Linked DNA regions of Homo sapiens: region 2 is linked to region 1. Evidence: fine-mapped expression QTL. A gene starts in region 1. The other region holds a variant in brackets. All regions are shown on one strand. Distances are from middle to middle. Region 1 holds the start of MYO16-AS1 (MYO16 antisense RNA 1). Region 2 holds the start of LINC03061 (long intergenic non-protein coding RNA 3061).

What was found. PIP is the estimated chance that this variant, and not a neighbour inherited with it, causes the effect.
Region 2: its variant is fine-mapped to the expression of MYO16-AS1 in tibial nerve (GTEx, PIP above 0.99).

The regions. Positions count from the first base shown.
Region 1 is chr13:109,166,157-109,168,656 of GRCh38, reverse strand. MYO16-AS1 (MYO16 antisense RNA 1) reads left to right here and starts at 1,354. Exons shown (of 3, transcript NR_047700.1): 1 at 1,354-1,638; 2 at 1,947-2,021. All of the region lies in intron 33 of MYO16 (myosin XVI), which reads right to left.
Region 2 is chr13:109,263,758-109,266,779 of GRCh38, reverse strand. LINC03061 (long intergenic non-protein coding RNA 3061) reads right to left here and starts at 1,293. Exons shown (of 2, transcript NR_185883.1): 1 at 1,113-1,293. The variant G/A (reference allele first, on the strand shown) is at 1,339.

The sequences.
Region 1 (2,500 bases):
GCCTCCTGGGTTCAAGCAATTCTCCTACCTCAGCTTTCCGAGTCGCCGGGATTAAAGGCATATACCACCAAGCCCAGCTGATTTTTGTATTTTTAGTAGAGATGGGGGTTTCACCATGTTGGCCAGGCTGGTCTCGAACTCCTGACCTCAGGTGATCTGCCTGCCTCGGCCTCCCAAAGTGCTGGGATTGCAGGCGTGAGCCACCGCGCCTGGCCTAGAGATGTAATTTTTGACGTTCAAATATATGAGCACTGTTTTTGCTGCTTTTTAATATTTGCACATTGTATCTTTTTCTTTTCTATCCCTTTACATTTACTCTTTCAGAATCCTTATGTTTTACTGTTTTCAGAAAACTTAGTTTTTAAAATATTCTGCTAATCATTTTTCATATAAGTTTACATTAAATAAGCCTTTTAAAGTTTATTATAATTAAATAAAGTTTATTTTCACATGTGTTTTCATATCTACTGTCTCAGAACTTTCTCCTTGCCCTATTTTTCCTATTTTATCCCCTTTTTGCATCTTTTGAGTTGACTTTTTATGATTTTATTTTTCTCTCTTTACTAGTTTGGATATTATCTACCCCACTAATATTCTTTCAGGGGTTACCTTTGAGGTTACAACTGGCAAGGTAGGTTTATCAGTGTATAATATTAAATATTATTTTACCCCTCCAAATTTTACTGCCTTTTTAGTTATTCTTTATTCTTTCCTTTATCTCTAAGCATTCTGAGTCTGTCAGTGTTTAATTCCTTTCATTTTTATTTTTTTTCCTAAAAATATCCTTAACTCCCTTTCATTATTACAGGAATTTTTGGGGGGCAGTTATTTTATTTGAGCATGTTAACTATGTTATTTCATTGTCTTTGGACTTCAGTTGCTACTTTTCGAAGATAGTACATATTTTTACCTCTAACTGCTTTTAAAATTAATTCTCGGTCTTTATTTTATAGGTGTTTTACTATGATACACCTAGGAAAGTTTTATGTATCCTACTTAGGCTTTGCAAAGGTTTCTGTTTCATTTTTACAAACGTTGGATTGATTATGGTGTAATTTAGAGACAGTGAGATTCACCTTTTTTAGACATACACATCTGTGCATCTGCAGACATGAGCACTCCAGGTTGTCTATAACACCACATGTCCTTCTGAACTTCATCTCCTGCCATTACGCCCAGCCTCCAGCAACCACTCAGCTGTTTTCTGTCTCCAGCTTTGCTTTTCCCCAAATGTTACATAAGCAGGATCACACTTAGTCTTTTGATTTTTTTTTTTTAACCTCAACACAATGCTTTAGCCATCCCTTTTTTTTATGATGCTCATTATAGTTGATCACTCTTATTTATTGCAGGCTTCATCCATGTGCTAGTTCAGCCTGTGAGATGCTGGTGAGCCCACCTCCAGGCACTCACGGACTCCCCACCCATTGAGTGTGGCCTGGATTTAGTGACTCAATCAAACGTGACAGAGTGCTGGGGTGTCATTTTCAAGACTGGGTTATGTGAAGACTGCAGCCTCCATCTGGGGTGCTCTCTCTTGGATTGCTTGCTCAGGGATGTGGGGAGAGCTGCTGTGCTGGGAGGCTGCCCATGTGAGTTGACTTGGATGTGAACCTTCTGTGGCCTGCCAATAGCCACGTGAGTGACCTTGAAAATGGATCAGCCTTCACTCAAGTCTCAAGATGACTGTGGTCTTGGCTGACAGCTTGATTGCTGTCTCATGGGGGACCTTAAACCAAAGGCACCCTGCTAAGCCACACACAGCTTCCTGGCCCACAGAAACTATGAAATAATAACCATTTCTTATATAAGCCTCCAAGTTTTGGGAGTAATATTTTGCACAGTGATGGATCACTAATACAAGCCAGTCATCAGTTGAAAGACACTGAATTTATTTCCAGTTTTATGTGATTATGAATAATGTCACCATATGCATTTGCATACAGGTGTTTGTGTGGACACTGCTGTCATTTCTCTTGGGAAGATACTGAGGAGTCAGATTGCTGGATCCCGTGAAGAATGTATGTTGAATGTTATAAAAATCTGCCAACTTAAATCTGTTTCCTGGTGCTCTTTCGTCAGCATTGGGAGATGCTCTAACATTTCTCACCAAGTCTTTCTTCTGCTCATGCGCTCCCTCTTCTTTCCCTAAGACTTCAATCATCCTCCTCATTGCCCTTTATATCTCTAAACCATTGTCTGGAGTTTCCATTCTTCCCTTTTGCTTCAATCTGTTTCATTCTGGGGATTTTCTGAGTTATCTTCCACTTCTCCAGTTATTTTTTATTTGTTTTGTTTTTAAACAACTATATCTAATTAAATTTAACTTTATCCTCTGTTGTACTCAATTTTATTACTGCATTTTCCAATTTCAGAATTTCCATTTGACGATTTCCTTATAGTTTCCTATTTCTGCTGAAATTCTCGTTGTTTTATTTCGTGGGGGGCTGAGTAAACATACTTATTTTAAGGCATGTGTCTTTGAATTCCAACCTTTTGA
Region 2 (3,022 bases), 98 kb before region 1:
TTCCGGCTATTTGGAACTACTGTAGAGTTTGTATTGGGGTCAAGAGGCATTGCAGAAGAAAATGAGACACTTAGATTTTAGGTCAGGTGAGAGTTGAAGAGGTTTTAAGTTCTTAAGAATACAGGCTAAGGGAGAAGAAGGAGGAATGGAAGGTGGAAGCTTGCCCATAGTGAAGGAGGCAAGCCCAGAGAAAAGAGTAGAGACACGGAGAAGGGGTGGGGGTTTCTTGCCCTCCAGAAAAGCAGAGAAAGGGTTGGGGCACAGAAATAAGGGATTGGGGCACAGAGATAAGAGGTCAGGGTGTGGAAATAAGGGATTGGGGGTTCTTGCCCCCTAGAAAAGTGGGAAGGGGGGTTGGGGCATGGAAATAAGGGATTGGGGCACAGAGATAAGAGGTTGGGGTGTGGAAATAAGGGATTGGGTCACAGAAATAAGAGGTCGGGGTGTGGAAATAAGGGATTGGGGGTTCTTGCCCCCTAGAAAAGCGGGACTTGCCACTAAGGGTGAAGGAGAAGGGGTTGAGGGGTACTTTCCCCTCCCCCAGAAAAGTGGGACTTGCCACTAAGGGTGAAGGAGAAGGGGTTGAGGGGTTCTTGCCCCTGCCCCAGAAAATCAGAGAAGGGGTAGAGACAAGAAGAGAAGGGGTTGGGGTACTTGCCCCTTCCCCAGAAAAGCAGGGAAGGGGTAGAGACACAGAGAGAAGGGGTTGGGGTACTTGCCCCTTCCCCAGAAAAGCAGAGAACGGGTAGAGACACAGAGAGAAGGGGTTGGGGTACTTTCCCCTTCCCCAGAAAAGCGGGACTTGCCGCTAAGGGTGAAGGACCAAGGCAGGCATCCCTGCATGGTCTGACACCCTTGAAACGTGGGTGAATAATCAGAGAGGTGTCCCTGCAATGATTAAACAGCAAGGGAAGGCTGCCTTCCCAGTCCGTGACCAGCGCTGGAGTTTTGGGTCCACAGATAAAACGTGTCTCCTTTGTCTCTACCAGAAAATGAAAGGAATTGAAACTAAGAGAAGGGAGAGATTGAAGTGTGGCGCCAAGATTGAAAGGAGAAAGAGGTTGAGGGATAGTGAGGGAGGTTGGAGAAGAGAGTAAAAAGAGGCGGCTTACTGGATTTAAAATTGGTGAGATGTTTCTTGGGCTGGTTGGTCTGAGGACCTAAGGTCGTAGGTGGATCTTTCTCATGGAGCAAAGAGCAGGAGGACGGGGGATTGATCTCCTAAGGGAGGTCCCCCGATCCGAGCCACGGCATCAAAGTTCACTCGAGTCCATGTGAAGAGACACCAAACAGGCTTTGTGTGAGCAACATGGCTGTTTATTTCACCTGGGGGCAGGC[G/A]GGCTGAGTCCGAAAAGAGAGTCAGCGAAGGGAGATGGGGTGGGGCCGTTTTATAGGATTTGGGAAGGTAATGGAAAATTACAGTCAAAGGGGGTTGTTCTCTGGTGGGCAGGGGCGGGGGTCACAAGGTGCTCAGTGGGGGAGCTGCTGAGCCAGGAGAAGGAAATTCACAGGGTTAATCACTCAGTTAAGGTGGGGCAAGAACAAATCACCATGGTGGAATGTCATCAGTTAAGGCGGGGCAGGGCCTTTTCAGTTCTTTTGTGATTCTTCAGTTACTTCAGGCCATCTGGGCGTATACGTGCAAGTCACAGGGGATGCGATGGCTTGGCTTGGGCTCAGAGGCCTGACAGTTTTTATAAGTGACCTAGTGGGGAGGCAGTATTTTACCTACATAGGGTGTGAAAAAACAGTTAAGACCAGGTGTACCATCAGCATAGAGTGCGAATCTCTGGCAGCCCCCATCCCAGCCTTTTATTATGGAGGCGGGTCCTTTGCCTGAGCTACTCCATGTTGCTTTCCTACTGTGCAGGTGCAAAAAAAAGAAAAAGAAAAAAAAAAGTGGGAGGCGGAGCCCTCATGGTGCACATGACTGGCCCCAGGTACCCCTTTCTAGTGCGGCAGCTCCCAGCTGCAAGCTTCCAGCTTCCTTATCTATGTTTGCAGCACAATCTTCCAGGCTGCTCTTTGTTAGGAGACACGTGTTTTCTTGGGCTGCTTTTTGTGAGAAAGGAAGTTCTACTGAGGAATTTTGACCTAGCTATCTGCCTAGCTATTCTCTTTTTACTTCCTCGCTCACTATGGGGTCCAGCCAAATCCAGTGGCATTGGGAATGGAAAGGAAGCAAGAATGGCAGATTATGTGGGAAGGTTTCCAATCAGCTAATTGGACTTAAGGGACAAGGGAGAAGTCAAAATAATGATGGAAATGATGGCCAAGGGAAGGGTCTTATTGTTAAAGAAAGCTCTGGGAAGGGAGATAATAGGTGTTTATAGCTATTTCCTGAGCAATCTCTGTTAGCAGGAAAATTCTCTGAAGCCATGTGAAGGGAGGCAGTTGCCAGTGAGGGGAGTTGGTGAGAAATGCCAAAGCCCCCTGGATTAGATGAAGAAATTGTATTCTCCACAAGTTATCTTTGAAAGATGACTTAGTGTACATGATTGGGAATTATATCTTGATAAGCCCCTTGGTTGGTTCTGGGAGTGATTCCTTCAAGGGGAACGCTTGGGAAATAATATATAATAGTTAAATATTCTGGTAACTTCATGGGCTTTATTCAGCTGAGTGGGCATATGAGTGTGGGGATATCAAGGGTTTAGGACAATAAGGTGATCAAAGCACTGACTCGGTGGTCTTTTAATTCCTCCATTCTGTTCTTCCCTGTTCAGTGCTTAGCTTCTCTTAATATACATTTCACAAATATATTTATTCTGAGGAACTAAATTATTAGCCTGACTAGGTGTTCAAATGTTTCCATATAGGCCTTTCTGTTCCTTTATCTGGGATTACAGGCATGAGCCACAACACACAGCTTAACCCCTGTGTGACTATCTAGTCCATAGAACTTCAGAAAGTACAACCAAATAGGGTGAAAGTTCAAGTCTTGCGTCCTCTATAATCCTATCTTGCACCCTGTCCCTCACCAAATATTTTGAAGCAAATCCCAGACATCATATCATTTCCT